Linked DNA regions of Homo sapiens: regions 1, 2, 3, 5 and 6 are each reported to be linked to region 4. Evidence: microRNA targets listed by miRTarBase, many of them from high-throughput screens and not tested one by one. Region 4 holds a microRNA gene; each other region holds the end of a gene's coding sequence.

What was found. Region 4 holds the annotated microRNA hsa-miR-663a (AGGCGGGGCGCCGCGGGACCGC, at 2,887-2,908, shown strand). A microRNA usually pairs through its seed, bases 2 to 8, with sites in the 3' UTR of a target mRNA and lowers its output. Matches are read on the target gene's strand: a 7mer-m8 pairs with bases 2 to 8, a 7mer-A1 pairs with bases 2 to 7 and ends in A, and an 8mer does both.
Region 1: miRTarBase lists SRCIN1 as a target of hsa-miR-663a. Seed matches in the 3' UTR shown: 7mer-m8 at 4,126-4,132, 7mer-m8 at 1,901-1,907 and 7mer-m8 at 1,252-1,258.
Region 2: the mRNA of PIAS4 is a reported target of hsa-miR-663a. Seed matches in the 3' UTR shown: 7mer-m8 at 1,202-1,208.
Region 3: miRTarBase lists CALR as a target of hsa-miR-663a. Seed matches in the 3' UTR shown: 7mer-m8 at 566-572.
Region 5: the mRNA of FOSB is a reported target of hsa-miR-663a. Seed matches in the 3' UTR shown: 7mer-m8 at 3,104-3,110.
Region 6: the mRNA of VGF is a reported target of hsa-miR-663a. Seed matches in the 3' UTR shown: 7mer-m8 at 4,548-4,554.

What each region holds. Positions count from the first base shown.
Region 1 is chr17:38,529,147-38,534,216 of GRCh38, forward strand. SRCIN1 (SRC kinase signaling inhibitor 1) reads right to left here. Exons shown (of 19, transcript NM_025248.3): 19 at 885-4,285. The coding sequence ends at 4,151. Among named protein-coding and RNA genes, the nearest start is that of SRCIN1, 74 kb to the right of the region's middle.
Region 2 is chr19:4,037,028-4,042,093 of GRCh38, forward strand. It overlaps PIAS4 (protein inhibitor of activated STAT 4), which reads left to right. Exons shown (of 11, transcript NM_015897.4): 10 at 347-477; 11 at 589-2,359. The coding sequence ends at 848. Among named protein-coding and RNA genes, the nearest start is that of ZBTB7A, 27 kb to the right of the region's middle.
Region 3 is chr19:12,943,517-12,948,586 of GRCh38, forward strand. It overlaps CALR (calreticulin), which reads left to right. Exons shown (of 9, transcript NM_004343.4): 8 at 21-113; 9 at 197-973. The coding sequence ends at 397. It overlaps RAD23A (RAD23 nucleotide excision repair protein A), which reads left to right and starts at 2,346. Exons shown (of 9, transcript NM_005053.4): 1 at 2,346-2,504; 2 at 4,332-4,493; 3 at 4,661-4,842; 4 at 4,981-5,036. The coding sequence starts at 2,433. RefSeq lists enhancers at 2,124-2,816, 2,228-2,447, 3,763-4,962 and silencers at 2,508-2,587, 2,598-2,787, 2,808-2,867, 2,839-3,133.
Region 4 is chr20:26,206,081-26,211,150 of GRCh38, reverse strand. It overlaps MIR663A (microRNA 663a), which reads left to right and starts at 2,873; the gene lies at 2,873-2,965. MIR663AHG (MIR663A host gene) reads left to right here and starts at 1,918. Exons shown (of 5, transcript NR_040095.1): 1 at 1,918-2,028. RefSeq lists enhancers at 1,455-2,015, 2,899-3,400.
Region 5 is chr19:45,472,413-45,477,482 of GRCh38, reverse strand. It overlaps FOSB (FosB proto-oncogene, AP-1 transcription factor subunit), which reads right to left. Exons shown (of 4, transcript NM_006732.3): 4 at 2,304-4,932. The coding sequence ends at 4,471. Among named protein-coding and RNA genes, the nearest start is that of TRU-TCA1-1, 3.7 kb to the left of the region's middle.
Region 6 is chr7:101,158,413-101,163,482 of GRCh38, forward strand. It overlaps VGF (VGF nerve growth factor inducible), which reads right to left. Exons shown (of 2, transcript NM_003378.4): 2 at 4,097-5,070. The coding sequence ends at 4,584. It overlaps AP1S1 (adaptor related protein complex 1 subunit sigma 1), which reads left to right. Exons shown (of 5, transcript NM_001283.5): 4 at 647-784; 5 at 2,107-2,864. The coding sequence ends at 2,154. It overlaps MIR4653 (microRNA 4653), which reads left to right and starts at 1,061; the gene lies at 1,061-1,143. RefSeq lists silencers at 4,326-4,415, 4,976-5,025.

The DNA.
Region 1 (5,070 bases), not on the chromosome of region 4:
TCACTTGAGCTCAGGAGTTCGAGACCAGCCTGGGCAACATGGCGAAACCTCATCTCTACAAAAAATACAAAAAAATGTAGCCAGGTGTGGTGGCAGGCACCTGTAGTCCCAGCTACTTGGGAGGCTGAGATGGGACAATTACCTGAGCCCAGGGAAGTTGAGGCTATAGTGAGCTGTAATCATGCACTCCAGCCTGGGTGACAGAGGGAGACCCCGTCTAAAAAAAAGAAAAGAAAGAAAAGATGGGTGGACCCCCACCAAGGGTCATCTCACTCAAAGGGCAGGAGGCTGAGACCCAATTCAGGGGACTACTGGAGGTCATCAGCCCTGCTTGGTTTCAGGGTAACCGTGGGCTTTGGTGTCAGGCAGAGCTGGATTCAAACTTACTGGTTTGTCTACAACCTACCAGTTGTATGACTCTGGGTAAGATGCCCAACATCTCTGAGTTTTGTCACTTGCCTGAGTAGGTAGTGCCGGTAGCTACCTCACCGATGGTTGTGAGGGTTAGGCAGGACACCTCCTGGAATGCCAAGCTGAGAACTGGTTTTTTTTGTTTTGTTTTTGTTTTTTGAGACAGGTTCTCGCTCTGTCATCCAGGCTGGAGCGCAGTGGTGCGATCTTGGCTCACTGCAACCTCCACCTCCTGGGTTCAAGCGATTCTCATGCCTCAGCCACCCGAGTAGCTGGGATTACTGGTGTACACCACCCCACCTGGCTAATCCCAGGGGCCCTGTTCTGTCCTCCCCCTCATGCTCTGCCAGCTGAAGGCCAGTGGCTGCCAGGGATTCCCCACCTGCCACCCCACCCATCCCAGCACCTTCCAGATCCTCCAGGGTGAAGCAGAGAAATAATGAGACATCAGCCTATAGGAAGGAGATCCAGGAGAGGAAAAAGAAACAAGTTTTATTAAAGCCCCAAACACTTGGCTAGAAAAACTGAAAAGGAAAGAGAGCAGGGAGCGGGGGAGAAGAAAAAAGGACATTAAAAAAGAGAGACAGAGAAAACACAGCAACCCTTTTCCATTTAGAAATTGTCAAGTTACACCGACAGAGGTCACAGAATATCCACAGAAGCCATCACTGCTACACCAACATGGGCCCTACAGGGTGGATGGGGCAGGGTGTGGAGCCGGGGCTCACCCCGGGGGGCCCCCTGGGGACCCCACTCAGAGCCTCAGGCCTGAGGCTCCTGGGGAAACAGCATATTGTGGAAGGGGCAGGAAATCCCCCATGCGAGTAACACAGCACAGTGGGCGGGGGCTGAGAGGACCAGGTACAGGGGTCCCCCGAGACGTCTTAGTTTTCTCTTGGTCAAGCACACACTGATGGACAGAGCAGCGAGGCGCATGCAGCTGGGGGCACTGATGTGCTGCAGGCTGTGAGAGGGCCAGCGGGGACGGGGGCTCAGGAAGGGATCTGGAGCCAGTGGTGCAGGGATGATGGAACACACGCACACAGAGGCACACCCACACACTTGGGTCTGCACCAGCACACATACCTGCACACACACACTCGGAGACACAGATTACATGCACCTCCATGTATGCGTCTCTATCCACATGTACGTGGCCCACACACAAGTCTCTGGCTCTCGGCATGTCTGCACACACATTACACATGTTCTCACACACAAAGCTCCTCTCACGCTAACATGCAGGTAGGCACGTGCCAATGCCCAAACAGGTTACATGCACCTATGTGCCCACGCCTTCCCCCACACATGTGCTCGGCCATGCCTGTGGGTGCAGGCCCCATGCGTCTGCACACACAGTGCATGGGCTTGTGCCAGCACACACACAGGCTGCACGCAATTCCACACGGATGCCTCCCAGCCCATAAATGTGCAGGAACCAAAGAGAAAGAAAGATGCAAATCCCACTGGGCTTCACCCGAGCGGGTGGGGCGGGGCACGTGGCTCCCTCCTTCTGCCCCTTCGTGGATGGACACTGCCCCCCCCACCTCCCCCACAAAGGGACATTCAACTCAGGACAATGACGGTGGGGCACACATTCCAGTCACAGGGCTGAGGGTGGGAGCTGGGGGCAAGCGAAGTAGCAAGCAGAGAGTAATGGAGTGGAGGGAGGAGGGGGCACCACTCCCCCCTCCCCTCCCAAGTCAGGGGGTCTCTGTACAGCCAAATCAAACCAGACCATTTCACTGGGACCACAGAAGCCAGGCCGACGTGCCCGCCCCCCAGCCCCCCTCCCCCGCCAAAACAGTGGCCAGGGAGAGTGCCGTGGTTTTCTTTTTTTTTTCTTTTTTAAATATTTATATATATTTATATTACGTATATTATATATATAATATGTAAATATATTTTTAAAACAATATAAAATGTTAAGACACTTCACTTAAATGTAAAGAGTTGCCTGCAATTAAAAGTAATTGCATCATTTATGAGGTCCTTTTTTTTTTTTCTATTTTCCAGGGTTTTTTTTTTTTTCCAGGAGGGATTTTTTTTTTCCTCTTTTGTTATTTTTCAAAAAGGCTTGCTCGCCTTGGTACAAAAATGATCCAAAGCTAGAAAACAAGGATGAACCAACAAAGGCAAAAACAAAAAAAGAAATGAAGAAACACAACCCGTTTCCCCTCCCCCCAAACCTTCAACAGCTCCCAGCTCTCCCCAGGTGCGGACCTTCCCCAGCCAGGCCCCAGGGTCTGGGGGGCTCTGCCTTCTGCGCAGCTCCTCCTTTCTGTGCTTGCTATGGGGGACTGATTCTAGTCCCCCTCCCCTGTGCTTACTTCACTTTGTGCTCCAAGTGGGAATCCTGCGGCCGGGGACCCCGCTCCTCCTCCTCCTCTTCTCCTATCCTCTCCCTACCGGCTCCTCACTGTGCCCTCTGGGGGGCCAGGAGTGAGAACCAAAATTGGCCTCTCTCTGCCTCCCCAGGACCCGGCCAAAAGCCAGGCGGCACTGCCAACCGCCTCTGCAGGGCAGGCAGGGCGTCCACAGGCCAGGGGCGCTGGCTGGATGGTCAGGCCTCAGGGACCTTCAGACATCTCACCAGGGTCACCAGAGCCCCATTGAAAAACTACGTCTCATCCTTTCCTGGGAAAACCCTCAAATTGCCAAGAGGATGACTGAAGTTCAAGTCACCCCACCTGCGGGTCCCAGGTGTCTTCAGTGCTCCCCGTCAAGCCCCTCTCGACCCTCCCATTTCCCTCAAACCAGACCCTTCCCCCAACTGCAAGCCACAAAACCTGGTTTTCTAGGCCCCTCACTCTTGCCCACCCCATCCCCATTCAATAAGTTAATGCCATTTAAAGTGCTAAATCAGGAAACTAAAAGTACCAAATACCCGTCCGGGCCGCCCTCTCCCAAGGCAGTGTCCCCGATATCCGGCTGTCCGTGCAACCCACCCTCCACAGCCAGCAGACCAAAGGGCCTCTGCCCTCCACTCCCCACTGGACGGCAAGGCCCAGGAGGCCAGCGCCTCCCCAGGGATACAGACTCCATGGCCTCACACCCACCCTGAGGCCTCTCAAACTCCGGCCTCGTCTCCAGCCTGTCCGTCTCTACTCCAGGCCCACTTGGGTGTGAGTGGGAGGAGGCAGAGCAGCCACAGAGGAAGTCACAGTCTTGTCGGAGCTTAGACAGGGAGTGGGGCATCTCCAAGGCCAGTCTCCCTAAGCCCCGCTCTCTGGCTTGATGTATGGGTTGGTCCGATGTCCCCGCGTTCCTCCAGGAAGGTATCGAGAAACGGGAGAGGGGTCTCCCACTGCTCCAAGTCTCCGTGGTTCAGAGTTTGTTTGGAGTATTCTTGGGAAGTGAGGGGAAGGCGGGAAGGGGGTGCAGGAGCTTCAGGATGGACTGGGGGAAAGAGTGGTGAAAGAGAAGAAGGAGAGATGTGACAGGTGCGGCCAGCGAGAGGCCAGCTGGGATCAAGGAAGGTGGTGTGTTTGGTTTTTAGTTTTACTGTTTAAAAAAAGATAATTAAAAGTTAATTGTTAAAAAAAAAAAAAAAAACAAAACCAAAAACACCAACAGATGATGGGTAGGGGTCGCTGAGGAGGGCCGCACCCTCCTCTTCAGGGCACACCCCTCAGGGCGTCTGGAGAGTAGGGTGGGGTGGGGTGGAGATGAAGGAAGAGAGGGGAGAAATGGCAGGAGTGAGGGAGGGGGACAGGCGGGGCAGCGGGGTGAGGGGCTTCTAGAAGGAGATGGAAGAATTCCTTGCCCCAAAGGAAGTCAATACAGGGATAGAGGTTCTGGAAGCCGAGGGCTTTTCTGAGACTGGGCTCGAGGTCTCATTCGACCCGCTCATCTCTTTAGATGGTTTAGTGGCCTGGAACAAAAACAGGGGTCAGGGGTCAGAGAGCGGAAGGGAGCGCCTCCATGCTGGCCCCCAGCTGAAGTTTTAAAAGTGGAAAACCTCCACAAATCCAAGGAAATTAACTGCAAAAGGAAGAAGCCAGAGGGGCATCTGGAGAGAGGGGTCCCTTGAATGGTGGAGGGGTGGGGGCAGAAAAGGGGGGGGAGGGGGCACGAGGTTGGACAAAGGGCCTGGGTGGTCAGAGGGCAGGCCCATAGTTACTGAGAGCAGAGAGAGAAGCAGAGCGACCAGAGAAGCACAGAAGAGGCCGCGCCCAGGATGGGCAGATGGGGAGGTGGGGGTGGGGGAGGGCAGGGGAGGGGAGGAAGAAGTGAAACATTAGCTGGGACAGGGGCACAAGCCCTGCGGGGGACGGGGGTCAGGGTGGGGAAAGGCTCCTAGTCCCAAATGGCCCGCTGTACAGCCAGAGCCCCTTCCAGCTTCATCCTGGTGGCAACAGAGGAGGGGGCTTATCCTCCCAGGGGGGAATAAACACTTCAAAGACCCCGTCCACCACCACCACCACCACCACCTGGAAATCTGAGAAGAAGGCGCTGCCGCACCAGCCTCCCGCCCAGTGCAGGAGGCCCCACTGCATGCCCTGCAAGCACTTGTCGCCCCAGTTGGTAACAGGAGGCTACTCCCTCATGACTTGTCCTGCCCTCACTGGTCAGTTCTAGTGGTCAGAACTGACCCCTCATCCTCCTCCCACCTTCGGTGGACTCCCGCAACTCCACCGGTCCTGGAGGCTTTTCCTC
Region 2 (5,066 bases), not on the chromosome of region 4:
TGCGTGCACACCCGGAGGTGCCCAGAGGGGCAGGGTGGGGAGGACCCCTGCAGCTGCCACACTCCCTGCTCTTGTGGGTAGTTGGGGGCCACTGGGTATGTGTGTCCATGCCCCGTCCCCCCGGCAGTGCCGTGCACTGCAGACCTGCCTGGGGCTCAGCACCTGCAGGGGCCTGAGGGCGGGGGAGGGAATGCGGGGTCCCTGGACCCCTGCGGTCGGGGTGGTGAGGCTGCTCTTGCAGAGAGAAGTGGGGAGTGCCTGGCTGCATCCGGGAGGGATGGAGGGCTGGGGAGTTGGGGGGGTGGGGCACCTCCAGCCCCGGCGTCAGCTGTCCGCCTCGCCCCAGGCTCCTCTCGAAGATCCTGAGCGAGTGTGAGGACGCCGACGAGATCGAGTACCTGGTGGACGGCTCGTGGTGCCCGATCCGCGCCGAAAAGGAGCGCAGCTGCAGCCCGCAGGGCGCCATCCTCGTGCTGGGTGAGTGCCTCACCCCACCAGCCGCGCAGTCCGCAGCCAGGGCCGCCTCAGTTTCCCCATTTATCAGTGGTTGCATCCTAAGTACCTGCACCCTGTCCCTGTTGCCCGTAGGCCCCTCGGACGCCAATGGGCTCCTGCCCGCCCCCAGCGTCAACGGGAGCGGTGCCCTGGGCAGCACGGGTGGCGGCGGCCCGGTGGGCAGCATGGAGAATGGGAAGCCGGGCGCCGATGTGGTGGACCTCACGCTGGACAGCTCATCGTCCTCGGAGGATGAGGAGGAGGAGGAAGAGGAGGAGGAAGACGAGGACGAAGAGGGGCCCCGGCCCAAGCGCCGCTGCCCCTTCCAGAAGGGCCTGGTGCCGGCCTGCTGACCCCGGCCGCACACTCGACTTTCCTGGTGCTCACCACGCAGAGGGGCACGGGCCAGCCTCGGGCGCAGAGGGAGGAGTGACCTTTCTTTTTCTTTTTATTGTCGTTCGTTTTGTTTTTCCACCCTTTTGCCTGGCTCCTGGCACCTGTACCTCTGGACTCTCCTATCGGGGGATTAAAAAAAAAAGTAAAATGACAAAAAAAGATACAAAAAAGAAAAATGAAACAAAAAAGTCAAACTCTTAAAAACAAGGCCGGCCACCCACACAGCCGCCTCCCCGGCTGGAGTCCGAGCCGGGAAGGGGTAGTGGGCGGGAGGGACCAGGACGCCGCCCCGCGCCCTCCCCTCCGGATGCCCCGCCGCCCGCCGCCCTCTGCCCACGACCATTCCAGCCAGTGCGCGGGGACCCGGGCGGCGGGCGGTGGGGCGCAGCCCCTCTCTGGCGACCACTTTGACGTTTGTCTCTTCCTTTGCTTTTTCTCTGCAAATGCATCCTCGCCCAGAGACCCTCACGCGCCGAGCAGCGAGCGTTTTAGCCGAGAAGCCATGGAGTGGGTTGGGGCGGGGAGGGGCAGTAGGGTGGGGGGATGGGTGGGCAGGATGGGGGTACAGTGGGCGGCTGGGGAGGGTTTAGCCACAGATGTGTTGTATTTTTTGAAAGTGCAATAATTTGGTATTTTGAAGACCCGGCGTGTGGTCAGGAACCCCCGGGGAAGGCGGGGGCCCAGGGTGCGGCACCGTGTGGCGTGGGGGGGTCTCAGTTTTCTAGCCAGCTACCTCGGTAATTCCAATTCAGGTTAACTTCCCTACGGAACAGCACAGATGTCCACAGATGTCCACAGCTGCCGCCGCCGCCGCCGCCACCATACCCCGGTCCTTGGGGCATGGGTTGCGGTCGCTTCCCAAGGGGCAGCAGGGACCCCGGCCACCCCGGCTCTCGGTTTGGGTTGATTCCTCTCCTTTTTGCTCTTGGTTTTCCGACGGGTACGAGGCTGGCCCGGCACCCTGTCCCCCGGGAGCCTCACTCTTCCAGCAGGACCAGACCAGGGGCCTCCTTCCTGTCCCCAGGCGTTCCCGGCCCCTCGCAGGCCCCACCCATGCCCTTGGCCTCAGGGTCCAACAACTGGGGGAGCTACCAGGGCTCTGCCTTCAGGAGCCCACAGCTGGGCACCCCCCTTGCCCCGCAGGAGACCGGGGCGCAGGCGGGGCACCGGCCTCACCTGGTTCTCCAACACCGCTGCCTGCGGTCTGTTTTGCTTTTGTCCTCCCCAGCCCAGAATTTTCCTTTGTATAAACAGAACTCCTAGTCAGGAAGCAATATCATTTCAGGTCTAAAGAAAGGGACGTGCATCTGGCCGAGGGCAGTTCAGTCTCACTGCAGAGCCCGCAGCCCGCTGCGCAGCTCGGCCCCTCCCGCCCGCACGGGCAGCTGAAGGCCGCTGTTTTCTAATATTTGTATTCTAATTTAATTGTTTTTAAAAAATGCAAATAAAAAAGGTCGAGGTGAAGCCATCCAGGCGTCCGCTTTTCTGTGCCCTGTGTCTCTTAAGTGTGTACCCTGTAGTCGGGGGGCGGAGTTGGGGGAAGGACAGAAACTCAGCCTCACCCACATCTCTCTTTCTTGGTTATTGCCTCAGCTTCAGAATTCAAAAGGTGCTGCTCGTGGTCAAATGAGGCAGATTTTTATTTATTTACTTATTTTTAATAGAGACAGGGAGTCTTGCTGTGTTGCCCAAGCTGGTCTTGAACTCTGGGCCTCAAGTGATCCTCCTGCCTCAGCCTCCCAAAGTGCTAGGATTACAGGCATGAGCCACCATGCCCGACCTGAATGAGGCCAGTTTTACTGTGTACTGTACTGCCTGGGCCTGGTGTCCACCACGCTGGGAGAATGGGAGAAGGGACTTGGGCTGTACATGGAATTCAGGTCCCAGGATCGTCCATGTCTCTGGGTGGCCAAGACGATACACAAATGTTTTGCTTTTGTAAGGTGAAAAAAAAGGGCCGGGTGCAGTGGCTCACGCTTGTAATCCCAGCACTTTGGGAGGCCGAGGCGGGTGGATCACCTGAGGTCAGGAGATCGAGACCATCCTGGCTAACACAGTGAAACCCCATCTCTACTAAAAATACAAAAAGCTGGGCGTGGTGGCGGGCGCCTGTAGTCCCAGCTACTCGGGAGGCTGAGGCAGGAGAATTGCTTGAACCCAGGAGGCGGAGGTTGCAGTGAGCTGAGATCACGCCACTGCACTCCAGCCTGGGCGACAGAGCGAGACTCCGTCTCAAAAAAATATATATACAGACAACCAATGAGCACATGAAGAGATGTTAGGGATGTGAGTCAAATGCACGGTGAGATACCTGTCACCCCCACCAGGACAGCTAGCATCAAAAACAGCAGCGAGGGTCAGGGAAGCTGCAGTCCACATGGCTGGGGAAGATAACGTGGTGCAGCCCCTTGGAAACAGTTGAGGCTAAATGTGGAGTTAGCGTGGGACCTGCAATGCCAGCCCTAGACGTGTCCCCAAGGTAAGTGAACACGTCCGTCCACACAAATGTGCTCACGGACGTGCACAGCAGCCAAATGTGGCAATGACCCATGTCCAGCCGGGGAGTGAATCAGTGCAGTGTGGCCATCCACACTGCAGAATGACAGCCATGGAAAGGAGCGAGGCTCTAACACAGGCCCCCAGCCCAGACGAACTCTGAGGATGCCATGCTTAGTGAGAGACATCAGACACCAAAGGCCACGAGGCGTGTGATCCCATTTCTGTGAAATGTCCAGAACAGGCCAATCCACAGAGACAGGAAGGGGATTCACGGGTGCTGGAGAGTGGAGAAGGGGATTGAGAGTGATCACAAATGGATATGGGGCATCCTTTGGGCTGGATAGAATGTTCTGGAATTAGTGGTGACAGGTGCATAATTTTTTTAAGGGAATTTTTTGTTTGTTTGTTTGAGACAGTCTCGCTCTGTCGCCCAGGCTGGAGTGCAGTGGCGTGATCTCAGCTCACTGCAAGCTCTGCCTCCCGGGTTCACGCCATTCTCCTGCCTCAGCCTCCCAAGTAGCTGGGACTACAGGCGCCCGCCACCACGCCCGGCTAATTTTTTGTGTTTTTAGGAGAGACGGGGGTTTCACCGTGTTAGCCAGGATGGTCTCAATCTCCTGACCTCCTGATCTGCCCACCTCGGCCTCCCAAAGTGTTGGGATTACAGGCATGAGCCACCGTGCCCAGCCTTTTTTTTTTTTTTTTTCTTTTGACATGGAGTCTTGCCCTGTTGCCCAGGCTGGAGTGCAGTGGCACCATCTCGGCTTACTGCAACCTTCACCTCCCCCCAGGTTTAAGTGATTCTCCTGCTACAGCTTCCTGAGTAGCTGGGACTATAGGCGTGCACCACCACGCCCAGCTAATTTTTGTATTTTTACTAGTCACCATGTTGGCCAGGATGGTCTCAATCTCTTGACCTCGTGATCCACCTGCCTTGGCCTCCCAAAATGCTGGGAGCATTACAGGCATGAGCTGCCGCACCTGGCTTTGAAGAGCAATTATATGGTGTGTGAATTACATTTATTTTCATTTCTGAGAAAGGGTCTCACTCTGTCACCCAGGCTGGAGTGCAGTGGTGCAATCATAGCTCACGGCAGCCTCGACCTCCTGGGCTCAAGCAATACTTCCACCTCAGCCTCCAGAGTAGCTGGGACCACAGGTGTGCACCATCACACTCGGCTAATTTTTGTATTTCTTGCATAGACGTGGCTTCACCTTGTTTTTCTGGCTGGTCTTGAACTCCTGGGCTTAAGTGATCCTCCCTTCTTGGCCTCCCAAAGTGCTGGGATTTCAGGCATGAGCCACCGCGCCTGGCCTTGAAGGGAAATTGTATGGTATGTGAATTATATTTTTGTATTTTTATTTTTGAGACAGGGTCTCACTCTATCGCCCAGGCTGGAGTGCAGTGGTGTAATCATAGCTCACTGCAGCCTCGACCTCCTGGGCTCAAGCAATCCTTCTGCCTCAGCCTCCAGAGTAGCTGAGACCACAGGCGTGCACCACCACACCTGGCTAATTTTTGTATTTTTTGCAGAGACGTGGTTTCACCTTGTTTTTCTGGCTGGTCTCGAACTCCTGGGCTCAAGCAATCCTCCCTCCTCAGCCTCCCAATGTGCTGGGATTACAGGCATGAGCCACCACTCCCGGCCCTCTCTGAAGCACAGAGGTTAGGAAGC
Region 3 (5,070 bases), not on the chromosome of region 4:
CCTTCCCATTCATCCTCCAGGTCAAGTCTGGCACCATCTTTGACAACTTCCTCATCACCAACGATGAGGCATACGCTGAGGAGTTTGGCAACGAGACGTGGGGCGTAACAAAGGTGAGGCCTGGTCCTGGTCCTGATGTCGGGGGCGGGCAGGGCTGGCAGGGGGCAAGGCCCTGAGGTGTGTGCTCTGCCTGCAGGCAGCAGAGAAACAAATGAAGGACAAACAGGACGAGGAGCAGAGGCTTAAGGAGGAGGAAGAAGACAAGAAACGCAAAGAGGAGGAGGAGGCAGAGGACAAGGAGGATGATGAGGACAAAGATGAGGATGAGGAGGATGAGGAGGACAAGGAGGAAGATGAGGAGGAAGATGTCCCCGGCCAGGCCAAGGACGAGCTGTAGAGAGGCCTGCCTCCAGGGCTGGACTGAGGCCTGAGCGCTCCTGCCGCAGAGCTGGCCGCGCCAAATAATGTCTCTGTGAGACTCGAGAACTTTCATTTTTTTCCAGGCTGGTTCGGATTTGGGGTGGATTTTGGTTTTGTTCCCCTCCTCCACTCTCCCCCACCCCCTCCCCGCCCTTTTTTTTTTTTTTTTTTAAACTGGTATTTTATCTTTGATTCTCCTTCAGCCCTCACCCCTGGTTCTCATCTTTCTTGATCAACATCTTTTCTTGCCTCTGTCCCCTTCTCTCATCTCTTAGCTCCCCTCCAACCTGGGGGGCAGTGGTGTGGAGAAGCCACAGGCCTGAGATTTCATCTGCTCTCCTTCCTGGAGCCCAGAGGAGGGCAGCAGAAGGGGGTGGTGTCTCCAACCCCCCAGCACTGAGGAAGAACGGGGCTCTTCTCATTTCACCCCTCCCTTTCTCCCCTGCCCCCAGGACTGGGCCACTTCTGGGTGGGGCAGTGGGTCCCAGATTGGCTCACACTGAGAATGTAAGAACTACAAACAAAATTTCTATTAAATTAAATTTTGTGTCTCCCTCCTGTGTCTCCTTCTGGGGAAAGACAGACTTAAGGAAACCCAGCAGTGGTCTTTTTGGGGGGGGGGGGGGTTTCCAGTATATCTCCTTTTTCAGCTATTGCTAGAGAGGTTGCTGAGTGTTCCACAAGATTCCAGGGACCCTTATTTACCCCATAACCCTCAAAACCAACGGGGGAATGGCTGTTGCTGCTGTAAATACTCCACATACTAACTTACTGAATCCTTGAACCTAACTGGTAAGTTTTGGTTCTGCTTATTTATTTATTTTTAAGATAGACTCTCGCTCTGTTGTCCAGGCTGGCGTACAGTGGCTCAATCTGGTTCACCCTGCCCCTTAAACTGGCCTTTTTCATGCTTCTATTCCTTTGGGGTCCTGTGGCTCAGCCCAACCCCTCTGGGATGCCTCCAGGACTGGTAGATCCAAGGGAGAATTCTGTATTTAATGTAGTGAGGCTTTGAAAGTTAACATCTTTAAATACTTCTGGGGTCAGATTAGGTATAGTACAACAAAGTACTCCTGCCCGGAGACCCAAGAATGAAAATTGTAGGTTCATTCCAAAACTCCAGATCCCTAAAGAATGAATGAGGCTACAAAATGGCACCTTGCCCCCGCTTCCAACTTAAGGTTTTTTTTCTGTGCTTGGTGGCCTTTCAGGTATTTCTAGTTTTGAGTAACTTTCACTTTGACTGCTCTACAAGGGTTCCTGCCAGGATACCCAGACCAGAATAAAACTCATTTGGGGGCCGGGTACGGTGGTTCACGCCTGTAATCCCAGCACTTTGGGAGGCCGAGGCGGGTGGATCACCTGAGGTCAGGAGTTTTGAGACCAGCCTGGCCAACACGGTGAAACCCAATACAAAAAATTATCCGGGCGTGGTGGGGGGTGCCTGTAATCCCAGTTACTCGGGAGGCTGAGGCAGGAGAATTGCATGAACCCGGAAGGCGGAAGCTGCAGTGAGCCGAGATCGCGCCACTGCACTCCAGCCTGGGTGACAGAGACTGTTTGAAAGAAAAAATTCTCATTTGGAAGAGGCAAAATGAGGTTTTTACAGAAGAAATACAAATGTCTGTAACCAGTACAGGTACATAAAAACTTTGTTAAAAATTCATTTGAGCGTGAGAGTGGGGACACCAGAGTCACTTTGCAGCCCCGTGACGTCACCGATAACGGGCATGGCGTCACTCAGGAGACCACGTGTGCGGGCCGAGCAAGAAGCCCCGCCCACAGCGCGGAGTTTAGTCTGCGCGTGCCTCGCTCGAGAACGCGCTCGTGCGCATGCCCACAAAGGCCAAGGAGGGAGTGCGCAGGTCACGTGCGCCGGTGGTCAGCGCGCGCATTGCCTGCCCCGGAAGTGGTCGGCGCGCGGCGCGGCGCGCCTGGGCGCTAAGATGGCGGCGGCGTGAGTTGCATGTTGTGTGAGGATCCCGGGGCCGCCGCGTCGCTCGGGCCCCGCCATGGCCGTCACCATCACGCTCAAAACGCTGCAGCAGCAGACCTTCAAGATCCGCATGGAGCCTGACGAGACGGTGCGGGCCGGGCCGGAGCCCGGGGGCGGGAGCGACGGGTTTCGGGGGTGGGGTGGGGGCGGGGAGGCTAGAATCCCAACGGGAGGGGCAGGGAGGACGGCGCGGGTCGGCCCTGCCCAGACCCCCGACCTGCCCGACTTTCCTGGACCCCCCGATGGTCTTTGGCCCAGCCCCCAGCCGATCGGGCGGCGCTCCTGCGCCGGTCTCCGGGCGAGGCCCCACCCCCGGGGCGCTGGCCAGGCCCCGGCTCCAATGTCAGCGCTCTCGCGGGGCGCGGGAGTCACAAGCTCGGATTCCTGGGCAGGCCAAGCTCTCCAAGACTGGGCTCCACGTTCCCAGCTTTGCAGGCGTCTCCTTGGGACACTGGTGGTCGAATCTAGGAGTAATGACCAGGAGATACTGAGTAGTGACGACAACAACGATGTTAATGATAATAAACGGGTCTCAGTCTTTATAATTTTGGTGGTCCGTGTTTGTTGGCCGTTTACTTTTTATCAGTCACCGAGTGTTGTAGTGTTGTTTTACCGCTCTGCAAAACGGGCTTGTCATTGGGGACCTCTGATCATTTTACAGATGTGGAAACCTAGGGATTGAGGAACTTTGCCACAGTCACACACAAGTAATGGCAGAGCTGGGATTCAAATTCGGTTCTGCCTCGTGTGAGCGTCCACGATATAAATATTATGCTGCCTTTTTAGTCAAAAGTAGAATTAGGACCTAATTCAAACATACTGAATGTCTATTGGGTACTTGGCGCTTTTTGCATAGTGAGGGAGACATTGAAGTCCACTTTTTGTAGAAAAGGAAACACACATTTTTTGATCCGCTCAAGTGTTTGGCTTTGGGCAAGTTAACCTGCCTACCTGTCTGTGCCTCCGTTTTCTCAAATATCAAATGAACCGGTCGCCTGCTGGCTTCCGCCTGTAATCCCAGCACTTAGGGAGGCAGAGGGAAGAGGAGCCCTTGAGCCTAGGAATTCGAGATCATCCTGGCAACACAGTGAGACCCCGTTCTCTACAAAAAAAAGAAACAAAAATCAATAAATAAAATGAGACCAATTAAACGTATTTCATAGGAAACTTAAAAGGTATGACACATATACATTTACAGTAGCACTATTGGCCAGGCACGGTGGCTCATGCCTCTAATCCTGATGATTTGGGAGGCAGAGGCAGGAGGATTGCTTGAGGCCAGGAGTTTGAGACCAGCCAGTCTAACATAGGGAGACTCTTATCTACAAAAAAAAATTATTTTTAATTAGTCTGGAGTGGTGGTGTGTACCTTTAGTCCTAGCTACTCCCAAGGCTGGACAAGAGTACCAGTTGAGCCCAGGAGTTTGAGGCTGCAGTCAGCGATGATCGTGCCACATCAATCCAGCATGGGCGGCAGCGAGATCCTGCCTCTTAAAATTAAAAAATATCACTATTAACTATTAGTCACTTATTGTCCAAGGTAGAGTGTAGAGTGGGGGACTGTCCCCTTTATTCTGTTAATTATACTTTATACTACCCGAAATTACATTTTCTTCACATTAGTGTTCTCTCATTGAGAGCAGGGACTTACTTGTGTTGAGTTTGTTCTGTGCTGTGGCCTCTGTGTCTAAAACAGCACCTGGCACATAATGGGTGTTTAGTATAAGTAAATACTGTGTTGAATGGCATGATGATTGAATGAATTCAAATCTAGCATGCTTTAGATGCTGAGAAAGCTTAAAAAACCCAGCGTGCTTGCCTTTCTGCCATCAGGGCTGGCAGTTTCTCTGTCCTAAACTAGAAGGGAAAAGAGAATCTTGGGGTCTCCAGTGACTGTCTGTACCACTCCCTCTAGGTGAAGGTGCTAAAGGAGAAGATAGAAGCTGAGAAGGGTCGTGATGCCTTCCCCGTGGCTGGACAGAAACTCATCTATGCCGGCAAGATCTTGAGTGACGATGTCCCTATCAGGGACTATCGCATCGATGAGAAGAACTTTGTGGTCGTCATGGTGACCAAGGTGGGTGACGTGTGCTGGCTGGGAGGGTGGGTGGACGAGCTGGGGAGCTGGCAAAGAGCCTGTGTGCCCAGGAGAGATTAGCTGTGAACAGGGCGGGGCCACAGCGGAGCGGGTTGTTGGGTCTGATAGGGTTGCTGATGCCAGCTCCCTTTTTCTTGCTGTTGCAGACCAAAGCCGGCCAGGGTACCTCAGCACCCCCAGAGGCCTCACCCACAGCTGCCCCAGAGTCCTCTACATCCTTCCCGCCTGCCCCCACCTCAGGCATGTCCCATCCCCCACCTGCCGCCAGAGAGGACAAGAGCCCATCAGAGGAATCCGCCCCCACGACGTCCCCAGAGTCTGTGTCAGGGTAAGGCGGGGGCAGCAGTCCCAGCTTGGGCCCTGTCCTCCTAGCACATTCCAGCGTCCACATAAGTGGTCCCACACACCTGGAGGGAGGGCAAGCCGCCAGAAGCCAGGGTCCGATTTCTCTCTCTTGAATTTGCAGCTCTGTTCCCTCTTCAGGTAGCAGCGGGCGAGAGGAAGACGCGGCCTCCACGCTAGGTGGGTGGGTGGTCCCCAGGGCAGAGGTGACTGG
Region 4 (5,070 bases):
TAATTTATTTTATGATAGTGTTGCTTAACTTAGTGTGCAAGGCCTACAAATAAACCTAATAAATATCTTACAAACTACCTTAAAAGAAATCTAATGTTTTTCACTGAAGTATTTTTAAACATATTGAAGTTGGAATTCCAGGTAATTGTATACACACACACACACACACACAAAACACACACACACACACATACACACATTAGGTTTTCATTTGGTTTCTTTGTTCCTATTATTGAAATTACTATGCTAATAACCATATCAATTTATGAAACTCATTTTGAGAAAAATTGCCTAAAATATAACTCATTTTTAAAATTATTTTCTCTTAATTTATAATGTAATATTTTAATAAAATATGGTAGGGCAATTTTGTATAAATATTTATGCTAAGCTTTCTACATAAGTTACTGCATATAGTCTAGTTTTTAATAGAAGGTTTTTTTTTTACTTCAGTATCCACTTTAAAGTCATTGACATTTAGTGTTTTTTACTTTACAGTTCTAAGTTACTTATGCTTAAAAAGTCATCTGACTTTTAAGTTAATGTCCAACTTGATTGTTATCTCTCTATATCTTATTGATGTGTTCTTGAAAGTAGTTAGAATTTAAAAAACATTACTAAGAGGGTTTTTTATTTTTCATCTTTGGAAAGAAACTTGGGATAAATGGTTGTCTTTCATCTTTGTCCTCCTCTCTACTCACAACTCCCCGTTCCAGATCATTAGCTAAACTTGTGTGCTGAGGTTAATATTCTGTTTTACCTTTCTTGTCAAATTGCTAGATACAACTTTGTTCAGTTATATACTGTACAAACAGCATCTTAACTTTTTAATCTCTCTCTTTTTAACAAATGTGTTCACCCTCAGATTTGTTGTCATTTAGAAGAGGACTTCCTATTGGAAATATAATAATTTTTCTTCATGTGGAATCTTCAATACAAAAAAAAAAAACACGTATCAATGGTTTGCATGTGTCATGCTGATAGTTGGAGGGCAAATGATATTAGAAAAAGTAACACTATATTTCTGAACATAAACCTTGTTTCATCTTAGAATTTGGTGTTGAACCAATTTTGTACCTCATTGCTATAAACCTTATGTATCTAAAGAGTTGTTAATATGTGATTAACTGCCTTGGCCAAACTCAAAATCTTATTCACACATACAATACACACAGATAACTTATTTTTATTTGTTCGATCACTCCTTTAGTCCCTCATTTATTTCACAAACATTCATTGACACTTACGTGGCAGCACTCTTGTAAGAATAGAATATGGTGATGTCATGCTCTCCCTGGCCGTGTCCGAGCCGCGACGGGCGAGGGGCGGACATTCGTGGCGAATGGGACCCTTCTTCTCGTCCCGCCCGCGGGGGCCCCTTGTCTCTCCTCTTCCTCGCCTGCGGGTGGTGCGTTGGGAAGGCATGGGGTGCGGAACCCGGCCTGACCTCGCTGTCCCGCCCCCGCCTTCTGCCTCGCGGGGTGGGTCGGGGGGTCCTCTGACGCGGCAGGCACCCCTCGCTCTCGCCTCCTGTGGTTGTCGACTTGCGGGCGGCCCCCCTCCGCAGCGGTGGGGGTGCTGTCCCGCCGGCCCGTCGTGCTGCCCTCCCGGGGAGTTTGCGCGAGCGTTGGCTCCCCCTGGGCCTTTGCGGTGCTCCTGGAGCGCTCCGGGTTGTCCCTCAGGTTCCCGAGGCCGAGCGGTGGTGTGTCGTTCCCACCCCCAGCGCCCCCTCCTCCGGTCGGCGCCTCGGTGTCCGCGCGTGGGTCCTGAGGGAGCTCGTCGGTGTGGGGTTCGAGGCGGTTGAGTGAGACGAGACGCGCCCCTCCCACGCGGGGAAGGGCGCCCGCCTGGTCCGGCGAGCGCACGTCCGGTGCTCCCCTCTGGCGGGTGCGCACGGGCCCTGTGAGCGATCGCGGTGGGCTTGGGCTGGTGACGCGTGCGCCGGCCGGCCGCCGAGGGGCTACCGTTCTGCCTCCGACCGGTCGTGTGTGGGTTTACTCGGAGGTGCTTTGCCTCTGAAGAAAAGAGGCGGGTGGACGGGGTGGGGGGGGGGGTGGGAGGCGGGGGCTTGTGGAGTTGCGCTCACGCTCGCACCTGCCGGTCCCCGCCCTGACCGCGAACGCTCAAGGTTGCCGCACGCAGGTTTTTCCTGGTACCACAGGCCCCCTCCCTTCCCCAGGCCTCCCTGAGCGCCTCTGCGGGCCCCTCGGGCCCCACGAGGGGCGGCTGGCGGGTGGGGAGTGTGACCCATCCTCGGTGAGAAAGCCTTCTCTAGCGATCCAAGAGGTGTGCCTTGGGGTACGGGATCCCCCGGCCTGCCGCCTCTGTCTCTCTCTCCGTTATGGTAGCGCTGCAGTAGCGACTCGCTTGCAGAGGAACCCTCCTCAGCTTCCCCCTCGACGGGGTGACGGGGGGAGAGCGAGGGTTCCGCCGGCCACCGCGGTGGTGGCCGAGCGCGGCTCGTCGCCTACTGTGGCCGGCGCCTCCCCTTTCCGAGTAAGGGGAGGATCCCGCCGGCAGGGCCCAGCGTCCTAGCGGGTTGGGACGCGGCTGACAGCGAGCGATGGCTGCGCGCAGCGTTCCGTCCGGCGAGTGACCCCCCTCCGCCGCGAGTCAGCTCTCCGCCCGCTCCCTTGCCGAGTCGCGACCGGTGCGGACGACGGCGTTTGCGTGGCACGTGGTCGGGCCGCCTGGCCCTGGGAAAGCGTCCCACGGTGGGGGCGCGCCGGTCTCCCGGAGCGGGACCGGGTCGGAGGATGGACGAGAATCACGAGCGATGTGGCCCTGGCGTTGAGTTTGTGGCTGTGGTCGCTTCGGGGCCCCGGTGGCGGGACCAGGGGCTCGTGAGGCAGGTCTTGGTGGGTGCCGAGGGCCTTCCGGCGTCCCAGGCGGGGCGCCGCGGGACCGCCCTCGTGTCTGTGGCGGTGGGATCCCGCGGCCGTGTTTTCCTGGTGGCCCGGCCATGCCTGAGGTTTCTCCCTCAGCCGCCCCTCTGCGGGCTCCCAGGTGCCCTTGCCCTCGCGGTCCCCGGCCCTTGCCTGTCTGCGCCCCCTTCCCCGCCCGCCGCCCGCCGATCCTCTCTCCTCCCCGAGCGGCTCACCGGCTTTACGTCGGTTGGTGGCCGCGTCTGGGACCGAACCGGGCACCGCCTTGTGGAAAAAAAAGAATAGAATATACCCTGTTAAATCAGACATGATACTTGCTTTTGTGGAGCTTATGCTTTAGTGCAGAAACAGAAAGTCAAGCAAAAACTCAAACTATGTAACTTTAAATTGGATATGTGCTAATGAAGGAAAATGTGGCACTGTAAGAAAAAATAATAGGGAGTTAAAGGATAAATAGGAGTTTGCTGGATGAAATTTATGAAGAGCTGAAGATTTCAAACAAAAGAAACTGATGCAGGAGGGTGCAGCTTTGGAGTCAAGAATGAAGTTCTAGGAGATAGAGAGCAAAGAAATGGTGGGAGAGGAGGTCAAAGTAGGTAGGATTTTATATATTATCAATGGGAAAATATTGAACAATCCTAAGCAGAAAGGCAATGATATATGTTCATCTTCATTACAAATTCTTATATTTTTAGTAGACCTGTTTTCAGGCAAAACTTCATAAGAGAATAGTAACAAAGAGAAAAAAAGCAGTGGTCTCAAATTATCTCTAACTCACCTGATGACTTTAAGTTAAATGGCCTCAACATTTTGTGATGCTTTTCCTTCTTATAAAGTAAGGAGTTTAGATGAGGTGAGGTATCCAATTTCGTTTAGCTTCAATTTCCCGTAATTCGACTGCTGTCAAGTCATGCTTTGCTTTGTTCTGTTTGTGAGCCAGAGTAACTTTAAGGTAGTATATTAACTAGAATAACTATTTCTTTACTTTTAAACTTCAAAATTATGATGACATAAGAAGTGTTTCAAAGAACATTTAGAAAGTAGATAAATGAAAAATTTTTAACATTTTGGAATGCTTCTTTTATTTCTTTTTGAAACCTAGGTTTTTGGTGCTAGTGGTGATATTTATTTTTTGCCAAACTAACCATTCTATGTAATTTTGTAGCATTTTGGGTTGATGACCACCGTAAGTCTAGTATTCCCATATGTGTTAAAATTTATCTTTACAATTAATATATTTTCACTGAATTATTTAATTAAAAATTAAACTACAATTTCTAATACATGTTCAATGAGATATCATTAGGCATTACCTGAAAAGGATTTCTGGAGAAAGAAAGAATTTCTGGTTAAAAAAAGGTTGAACAGGTTTTCCTAGTGCAGTTCTCTCGGTCTCTAGGATGGAGCTACAGCATAAAGTAGCTTCCAAATTTACTTCACAAATTAGCCCTTAGATTTCAAGAATTACTTGTAATTTTTTTTTATAGAGCACAGTTTCTTTGCTCTTCAGTATTACACTTGCTTATGTGAGTTCCTAAAACTAAGTTTAATTTTGGAAATTCTTAATTTTATATTTACATTTTGAGTTGTGTTTAAATAAAAAATTAAGTTTAGTAAAAAGCTAGGTTTTTATTTCCACCTACAAATTCAGTGTCCCATCAATAGAAAAAAAATTCTCAATAATATTTTAAAGTTACTTACTTTAGTATTTGTCATTAAAGAATAAAATTTACCAGGCAGAAATGCCCCCAGAAGCTACCTATGGAGGAAATATAAATATTATTATTACCTACTAATATTAACATACAAACTAGTCAATTATGGTATAGCAGTTAAATATACATAAAAGTTAAATATTTATAAATGATACAGGACTCACATGTTTGTATGCCTGTTGTGCAGTCACAGTCTGATAAATTGATAAACAGAGTTTGCAGTAGAGAAAGAGTTTAATGATTGCAGGGCAGCTGAGTGAGGAGATGCGAGCACCCTCGAATCTGTCTTTCCAGAGAGTACTTGGCTGGGGTGAAGGGATTGTAGAGGACCAGGGGCTGGAAAATTGGGGTCACTGACTGGTTTGGTTAAGGGGGATTAAATCACCAGGATGTAGAAACTTTGCCCTTTAGTGAGTCGGCTTCTCCTGGAGCCCTTCGGAGCAGCTGATGTCAGTAGTTTCACTGGTATG
Region 5 (5,070 bases), not on the chromosome of region 4:
TTTATTACTGCCCTGTATTTTCCTTCCCAAGCCGGCTGCTCACCAAGCCCAACTGTCCTGCCTCCCGAGTGTCTCCTGAATCCTTCCCCTCCTCTCTGTCCCATGTCCCTGGCCCTGTTCTGGACTCCTCCTCACCCCACCCTGCAGGGTCCCCACCCCACTTCCTCCCTGGTCTCCTGCTCAGTCTCACTCCTCTCCCTTCCAGTCACGCTCAGTCTGGGGCCAGAGGGGTCTTTCCTAAATCACAAACCTGCCCCTGCCCCTCTCGTGTTCAAAACCTGCAATAGCTCCCCAGTGCCCTGAAGAAAAGATCTAAACTCCTTAGCCTGGGAATGTCATTATAGTACCTGCAGAATCTGGTCTCTACTAACCCCTCTCTCCACACCCGTGGTTCCAGTCTCCACGAATCTCTGAGTTTTCTCTTTTTTTTCTTTCTTTTTTTTTTTTTTTTGAGACAGAGTCTCGCTGTGTTGCCCAGGCTGGAGTGCAGTGGCACAATCTCAGCTCACTGCAATGTCCACTTTCCAGGTTCAAGCGATTCTCCTGCCTCAGCCTCCCGAGTAGCTGGGATCACAGGTGCCCACCACCATGCCTAGCTAATTTTTTGTATATATATATATATATTTTTTAGTAGAGACGGGGTTTCGCCACGTTGGCCAGACTGGTCTTGAATGCCTGACCTCAGGTGATCCACCCACCTCGGCCTCCCAAAGTGCTGGGATTACAGGCATGAGCCATCGCACCCGACCCTCTAAGCGTTCTCAATGTATCAAGCCTTCTCCCCACCAACAGATCTATGGCTGTGCTATTTTCTTGGCCTTGGCCTTTTTCTATTTCTTTCTATACTCTCTATCCTCCTCTAGGACTCAGCTCAGCTGTCCCCTCCGCCAGGAAGTTTTTCCCGACTCCCAGTCCAAGCTAGGTGTCCCTGCTGTGCTTCCCTAGCCCCATGGGCTTCCCAAACCCAATCCACTTTAGGTTGTCCCTGACTGGCAACGGTGTGTGTCCCCCAATGGACTGTGAGCCCCAGGAGGGCAAGACCTGAGGCTCAGTCCCTATAGTGTCCCCAACTCCCAGCACAGTTGGGTAGGTGCTTAGCACATTTTTTTGAGTGAATTAATAAATGGATTCCACCATGACAAATTCCCTTGCTTATTGATTTACCAAAGCGTCTGAGCGACCCCTGGACCCTCACCTCAATTCCCAGAGGACTTGCTGTTATGCAAATAAGAGACGGCTAGGATTTTGCAATGGGGATGGCTCCACTCTATGTGTAAAAAAAAAAAATGGTCATATATTTGCTTCAGTCAGTCTTGGGTTGGCCCCAATAGTGGTCATATGGAAAACAAAAGGAAACACATCTTCAGTGTAAAATAATTGTTTTTTGTAGTTGTAGTTTGTAAAAAATCCAAGATGACGCCTCATTCCTAGCCTGAGTGGTCTTTAGTAGTTTGCTGTGCAAGTTTCTCAAGATCCTCTTTTTTTTTTTTTTCTCAACATAATGAGATGGGTTGGGGTGGGGGGTGTCTCACTATGTTGCCCCAGGCTGTTCTCGAACTCCTAGCCTCCTACCTCGGCCTCCGAAAGAGCTGGGATTGCAAGTGCAAGCCACTGTGCACAGCCCATTAAGCTTCTTCTGTGTATAGTTTATCTCCTTAGCGTCTGTTTTTAACCCATAGAGCATACAAGCTCCATCACTAGGACACCTCTGTGATCCCACACCTGCAGGCTAACCTTCTGACCCCTTACTTTTTTTTTTTTTTTTGACAGTTTCACTTTGTCACCCAGGCTGGAGTGCAGTGGTGCAATCTTGTGTCACTGCAACCTCTGCCTCCTAAGTTAAAGTGATTCTCCTGCCTCAACCTCTCAAGTAGCCTGGGATTACAGGTGTGCACCACCACACCAGGCTAATTTTTGTATTTTTTGTAGAGACAGGGTTTCACCATCTTGGCAAGGCTGGTCTCAAACTCCTGACCTCAAGTGATCCGCCCATCTTGGCCTCCCAAAATGCTGGGATTACAGGCGCAAGCCACTGCGCCCAGCTGTAGCCACTTACTTTTTCTAGTAGGAGGCACTGCCTGCGAGTACAGGAAGTCCTCCTGACTGTCTGCCTTCCTTTTATCCTGCTGTAGACCCATTGACTAGAAGGAGTTCCTGCATAGGTGTGTGTCTGTGTGTGTGTGTGCATGGGTGTATGATCTCTGTGTGTGTGTAGTCCTTCGACAATCTAACCTCATCCTCTCTTACTAAAAGGAAGCCAGGCAATGGGTGTTAGGAGGAAATAAACACTGTAGCCTGGCGAATGCGTTTTTAAGAGCTTTTTATTGGCAACAGTGCAGAACCAAGGGGAGAGGGGACGGCCCATTGCCAATCTGTCCCAGCCCCCCGGGGTCAGATGCAAAATACAAAAAGAGAACCACAAGTACAGCATGGGGTAGGGGGGTCGGGGATTCATTGAATTGTGGTTGGCAGGAGCAAGCCCTGCTCACACTCTCACACTCGCACCCAGAATTGTCAAAGATACAGATTGTAAAAATCTACGATCCCTCAGTCTCACTCACAAAAAATAAAATCTCATGTCCCCAACGAACCCAGAGTCAGACGACAGCTGGAGCATTGGCAGGGACAGTCAGAAAGGAGACAAGTGAAAACGGTCAGATGGACACAGGCGGAGGAGAAAAGACAGAGGGAGAGAGACCATCGGGAACAATCAGAGGGGCCGAGACGATCAGAAAAGGGTCAGCCCGAGACAGGCTGAGCCAGAGTTTCTAGAAGCAGTTTCCAATTCAACGGCTCGCTTTGAGGGCCAACGTGACCTAGGCCGAGGCTGCAGAAGCGCTCACACACTCACGCGCACGCACACACACACATCCATATATAATATATTTACTTATACATAATAGATATAATTGCCTTTCGGAAACCAGGAAAGGGATAAATAGCTAAGGAATGGGTCTGGGATCAGGATGGGAGACGCGCGACAAGGGGCACGTGGAATGTTTTTCATGCAGCACGGATGGAGGGCGGCGTGGTCCACCCCCCGATATTAAAAAATATAAATTTGCCTCATAAAGAAATCCTCATGAGATGAAGCGCAGGGAACGGCGGGGTGGGAGAGCCAAAACCATGGTCAGGGATGGGCGGACTCGGGCATGGAATCATGAGATTCCAGCCCCTTGAGTCTGCCAGTCCAAAAATATTGGGGGTTTGGGGGTACCAAAGCCTCAGCTCTGAAATCTTCTCCGGAAAAATGTCACAGCCCCTCACTCCCTTCCTGGAGAGGATGTGAGGGGCCAAGGGGTGGGAGAAGTTGGCGTCCTAGGCTGGGGATTGGTCGGGGGACCTTAAAGAAAAAGGCCAGGGCTGAGGGTCCTGAGGAGAGAGAGAGAGGCCACGTGGATGGAGGACTGTCACCCCCTTCTCGGTTCTGTCACCCCCTTGAGTCTAACTCACTGTTGAGGGGAGGAAGAAGGGGGATGGACGGAAGGGAGACCGAGGAAAGGCTTTCGGGAGTGGGGACATTATCCCCCCAGAGGTGTGCTGCCCCACCCAGCTGCACCCCACAATCTGGCCAACTCATTTCACAGTATAAATCACTCCAGCAGGACGGCATCACAGCAGCCCCTGCTGCCTGAAATCAGAGCGGCCCAACGAGGAAGGCCAGGAGGGTCGGCTGGCAGGGGGCAGGGTCTTGGGATAACACTGTCATCAGAAACAAGGCTGGGGGCTGATTTCGGGGTGGGGAGCCTTAGGAGGCCAGAAATTCCAATCAGAGCCAGTTTTTCTGGGAGGGAGTGGCTAGACAGTCAAGGAAGGACGTTCACATTTCAAAAGAAGTCGGGTGGGGGGATGAGATTATTCTAGGGGGGCATCGAATTCCCTTTAAGGGGGGGGCTCACTTCTGCCCAGAGTAAAGAGGATCTCACACCATGGAAATGTGGGATCAATAAGCTAAGGTCGGGAGTGCAGGGGAAACCAACCTAGGCACCCCAAAAAAAGGGTGGGTGTGGGAGACATTGGGTAGGGAGTGGCATTTTTCCTTGTTGAGCCTCTCTGGAGAGGACTCCAGCCCACCCCACAGCCTACCTCCCACCCCCGTCCCTTAATCCTCACACAGGACTGCCCGAAGGTGGGCGTCACCCGCCCCCCTCCCCACCCATCCCCAGAGCTTGGGTTGACGTCAGAGAGCCAACAGTCAGCTGGGGGTGTCCATCCCCTTCCCACCCCCTGTCCCCAAAGTCACCAGCTCTCCGGCCTCGCCGGGGCACAGAAACAAGAGGCAGGACAAAACACAAGGAATCCTCCTGTCCGATGGCAGTGGCGCAGTGGCCGCAGAGGGTCAGACGGAGGAGCCAGGGAGGCCACACACCCACTTTGTCTCTTCCCCTCTCTCTCCTCCTTCTCCTCCTCCTCCTCCTCTTCCAAGTCTCTCTCCCCCATGTGTTTGTTTGTTTTGTGTGTCTAAAGAGTTCACAGAGCGAGGAGGGAGGGCGAGTTCAGGGGATCGGAAGGCTGGTCACTGCCGCTGGTGCGTTGGGCGCCGGCGAACGCGGAGACCTCCGGGCAGGTGAGGACAAACGAAGAAGTGTACGAAGGGTTAACAACGGGGAAGGGGTCGCCGAGGACTTGAACTTCACTGTGTGTAAAGAGAGAAGCCGTCAGGTTGGGGGGTGCGTCTTGGCTGGTCTGGAAGGGCAGGGGCGGTGGTGGCGGGGGCGGCAGCAGCCAGCTGAAGCCATCTTCCTTAGCCGGTGCTGAGCCCGGCAAATCTCTCACCTCCGCCAGCGGGCCCGGCCCGGGCCCCTCTTCGTAGGGGATCTTGCAGCCCGGTTTGTGGGCCACCAGCACAAACTCCAGACGTTCCTTCTCCTTTTGGAGCTCGGCGATCTCCGACTCCAGCTCTGCTTTTTCTTCCTCCAACTGATCTGTCTCCTGAGGCCAGGGAGGCCAGGTCACAGAAGAGAGAGAGGAAGGAGAAAAAAGCATGTCAGTGACCGGGAAACTCGGGTCATGGCTCCCTTGGACTTGCTGCTGGAAGGCAGCCCCGGGCTGAGAAAAAACACCTCCTGA
Region 6 (5,070 bases), not on the chromosome of region 4:
TCAAGTCTTCCACCCCATGGTCCAGAATTCCCTCTTTCCCTGCCCCACAGTGTCCAGGAAGCGGGGCTACCACAGCCTTTGGTGGGAAGAACGTCACAGATTTTGGGGGGAAGGCAAGGGGAACCATAGACAAAGGTAGATAAGGCAACTAATGTTTCATGATCAGGAGGAAAGATGCAAGAGGAAGAGGGAAAAAAACTGATCCAAGGCAAGGCGCGGTGGCTCACGCCTGTGATCCCAGCATTTTGGGAAGCTGAGGCAGGTGGGTCACTTGAGGCCAGAAGTTCGAGACCAGCCTGGCCAACATGGCAAGACCCTATCTCTACAAAATATTTTAAAAATGAGGTGGGCGTGATAGCATGCACCTGTAGTCCCAGCTACTCAGGAAGCTGAGGCAGGAGGATCACTTGAGCCCAGGAGTTTGAGGCTGCAGTGAGCTGTGATCATGCCACTGCACTGCAGCCTGGACGACAGAGCAAGAGACCCTGTCTCTAACAAAATAACGAAACAAAAAAACTGAAAAAGCTGACCAATGACTAAGGCTTGGAGGTTGGGGGCAGAACCCAAGGTGGGAGGCACGGTCTTGAAAAGGAAGTGGCTCCAGTTGCCCCTCCATGCTCAACTTAGCCTCTCCCCGCCCTCCCAGGTGTGCGAGCTGGACATCATCTTCAACTTTGAGAAGGCCTACTTCATCCTGGATGAGTTTTTGATGGGGGGGGATGTCCAGGACACCTCCAAGAAGAGTGTGCTGAAAGCCATCGAGCAGGCTGACCTACTGCAAGAGGTACGGGCCAGGGACAGTGAGGAGGAGGAGGAAGCGCACAGTGGCGGACAGGGTCCTCCCTCCCCTGGACACCCGGCCTGCCCTGCCCACCGTCGCCAAGGAGCCCCCCCTCCCTGTGGTATCTGACCCCCACCACGCCCAGCTCTCCAGCTTACTCTCAAGCCCTGACCCCATGGGGTGGGAGGTAGGGTGGCAGATAGCCCACCTGTGCACCCCTCATTCCAAGCTCTGTCCTTCTCCCAAGCCCCCAGATGTCTCGTGGCCACCCAGTCTCCTTTGTCCAATTCTCTGAGCAAGGCTTAACACCAAAGGGTTAAGGGTTTGCTCTGGAGTTAAGGGTTGCTTGGAGAATTGGAGAAGGGGCACCTGGTAGGTCATTCTTTTCTTCCCTGATTTCTTCCCCCACCTCTCTTTTTTTTTTCTTTTTTTTTTTTTTAACACACACATACTCCAAAGCCTCTGCGTCTCAGGAGGAAAAGGCTATGGGGATTTGGGGGCTGGCAGAGGGCACCTGGATGTTGGTTCTCCCTGCTCCCCAGCGCCCCCGCCCTCACCCCATTACTGCCTGCCCCCTCTCTGCTGTGCCATCACCGAGCCCTGGTGCAGGGAGATGAGTCACCGGAATCTGCAGTGATGAGCGAGCCCGGCCTGAGCTGGCTCTGAGGAGGGGGAGAGATGGGGGGCGAGGGAGGGCTCATCTTTGCAGTGGGAGAGAGGGCAGAACTGAACTTGCCACCTCACTGGTCGAGCTTCACCTTCCCACACACGCACACACACACACCCTGGCGCGCACACACACACACACACACACATGCCCTGGCACACACACCCATCGTGTCACCAGTGTTGCGCTCAGACCCTAATGACGCATCTCCCTGCAGCCTGGTTCACCTTCCCTCAGGGACCTGGCACTCACCTCCCTCTGCCTTTTCCCCACTCTGAAAAACAGGACCCAGTCAGCTGTACCCCCCAGGGCCCCAGAAAGATCCCCCACCTCCTTGTCCCGGCTTCACTCCCTTTACCCCCAGGTGTCAAGGCGGGGCCCCTGCTTACCAAGGTCCTGGCTTTGGGTTCTCTGGGTGGTGACGGACTCAACCTGGACCCCCCCTGCCACTGTTGGCTGGCTCTGGGGCTGGCCCTGGGAGGCTGGTGGGTGCCCCATGAAGGGCTCACTGGTCCGGCCTTGGGCTCACATTGGCTTCTCTCCCCCTCCCCCGTGTCTGTGCCTCCCCCGTCTGACTCTTCCTCGTGACTGCTGTCTTGCCCACCCTGTCGGCCTCTCCTGGTGTCTCTGCGTCACCCTCTGTCTGTCTCTGCCTTAGGAGGATGAGTCGCCACGGAGTGTGCTGGAGGAGATGGGTTTGGCATAGCCCCTGCTGGGCCGGGGTGTGGCGATGGGGTCCTGGCAGCGTGGCGGGAACGGCTGCTTCTCCTCTGCCCAGGGCCCTGTTCTTGGTGGGACTCGGCTGCCCCTCCTCTGCTGCCTCACCTTTCGGAGTGAGCTGTGGGCTCAGGCCCTTCAAACATTCCCTCCCTCCACCCCCTACCTCCACTTTCCCCTTTTCCCACTGAAGGTTTTAGAAGCTAGGAGGCAGGAAAATGTGACCCAGATGGGGGTGCTATTTGGCTTTTATTCCCTGCCTTTGCAGAACTGATGTCACCCCAGATGTCCTTCCCTCCCTAATAACTGTAAATATATAAATATGTCAGGTTAAAGGGAAAAGGTGTTCAGGGCACTTCTTGTCCTCTCTGTCCCATAACCTACCTCCACCCTCCCCCTAGCCAGCCAGGCAGCTTCTCTGCCTGGGAGGGGAGCCTGGACCCCCCTCTTTCTCCTTGGCTGCAGTGGGGCCTTTATCCAGTGCCAGGGAGGAACAACATAGTTAATTTTTTTCTAACCTTGCCACTTTGAGGGAAGGAAGGGTTGGGGGAAGGGCAAGCTTTATGGGACCCTGGTCCTGGCCCTGGCCTTTCACTCCAGTTCTGGGTGAGGCAGGAGCTGGGAGGGGTGGGGAGGGGGAGGGGGAAGTGTCTGCCTTTATGTCCTTTCTTCTGAAATAAAAGTAAAAGCATTTCTGGACTTTGCTGGCCTTGGGCTCTGTGAAGGAAGGCAGGGCTGCTGGCATCATCGGGAGGCCAAGGGGATCCTGCCAGCCTTGGGAAGAAACGGAGAGCACGCAGTTAAATGAGAATTCCAGATACACAACAAATCATTTTAGGGATAAATGTGTTGCATGCAGTGTTTGGGACACATTTAACTCTAAAACTGCATCTGTTGTGTATCTGGAATTTCAGATTTCATTTCCTGTATTTTATCTGGCCACCCTACCTTAAACGGATTTTTATGCCCAATGCGTCTCCAAACGGGCTGCCCCCAACTCCCTGAGCTGCCTTTATGGAAGGAGGAGCAACTCTTCAGGATGCGGGTCTGTTGTGGGTGATTTCGTTTGCCCAGTTTAGTTTTATTTGAATCAGTTCACAAGTACCTGCGATTAGAAAAGGCTTAAGATGGGAGGCCAAGGTGGGGAGGTCGCTTGAGCCCAGGAGTTCCAGACCAGCTGAGCAAGCTGGCAAAACCTCATCCCTACAAAAAATGCAAACATTAGCTGGGCATAATGGTGCACACTTGTAGTCCCAGCTACTCAGGAGGTTGGGGTAGGAGGATCACTTGAGCCCAGGAAGTCGAGGTTGCAGTGAGCTGTGATTGCACCACTGCACTCCAGCCTGGGCAACATAGTGAGACCCTGTCTCAAAAAAAAAAAAAAAAAAAAAGTTAAGAAGTGGCTTTAGCCAGCATGTCTCTGTGGCTGCCACTCCCTCCTCCCCGCATTTCTTGCAAAGTACCTAGGACCAGGAATGTAGGGATCAGTGGAGGGAGGTGGGTGGGTGAACACAGGAAACTCCGGCATTACCCGCGCGGCCCCAGGATCTTGGGAAAAAGGAGCCCACTGGCACCCAGAGTTGTGGCACCTTCTGCGGGTCGCCTTTTTCTTTTGAACCAGAGGTCGCTGGACTGATCGCAGACAATTGGCTCTTTTATTGCATTCCGCTGGGCCTCTCTCTGTCAAGCCCTGGGGAAAGATGACTTTACCACCAGCCCCCAAGCTGGAAGTGGAATTTCGGGTTTCTTAATGGGTGCGAGCCACATTCTTCTCCTCTAAAAACAGTTTGAGGACTTTCCCCACTTACCCCTTGCCTTAGTTTGGGGGCAGGAAGCAGGAGGAGACGGGGACTGTGGCTGGCGCTTCCCTCACCGCCCCTTGGGAAGGACCACACAGGCCCAAGGGGACGGGTGAATAACCGAGAACAAAGTCCTAATAAAATAGTCACTTTTATTTCTTAGCAAAACTATTTCCTCCGTGAGGGGTATTTACAACAGAGAAAGGAAAGAAGGGGTCAATTCACAGCGACTTGGAGAGGCTGGAGGGGCTCGTGGGAGGCCCGAAGGGCTGGAGACAGACACACTTCACACAATTAACTGGAACTGCTTTTTCCGGTTTCCGACGGGGACGTCCCCAGAGGGACTTGATGGGGCCGGGGCCCCGCGTGGCAAGGGAACTCGCACAAACCACCCGCCCTCCTGGGCTGGCCCCCGGTCACCCGCGGGTGAGCTCTGGGAGTTCGGGCTCAGGACCCGGGAGGGGGGTCTGGCAGGTCCCGACGCAGCCCGGGGACAGGGGCAGGGCCAAGGGGCAGGGCCGGGGCGCATGCAAACACCGAGGGGGAGCGGGCAACACGGAGGGGGGCGCCGGCGCGCGCGCGCGGCGGGGGCGCGCGGGGGCGGGACCGGGAAGGGCAGTCACGGGCGCCGGAGCAGCACGTGCTCGATGTAATTCTCCAGCTCCTCCTGCTCCTGCAGCCGGCGCTCCTCCGCCTCCGCCTCCTCCTGCGCGCGCCGCGCCTGGGCCTCCCGGCCGGGATAGTGGCGCGAAGGCGGCAAGGCGTGGTGGTAGTGGCGGCGGCGCAAGGCCGAGGGCGGCTGCAGTGTCCGCGGCCGGATGTAGTTGGGGAAAGGGTGGTACGGCCCTGGCGGGTACACCTCGTCCTCCTCCCGATCCCAGGGCGGGAGCACCTCGTTCCAGTCCGGCAGCTCGTCTCGTGCGGGAGCGGGGGCGGGGGGCGGGGGCTGCGGGGAGCGGACGTGGGTGGGGGCGGGGGCGGCACGGGGGGGCGGCACGGGCTCGGGAGGGGCGTTCTTCTTCCGCTTCCGCTTCTCCTCCACCTCCTCGATGATGCTGACCACGTCGTCCGCTGGCAGGTGGAGTTTGGTGGACAGCTCAATGAGG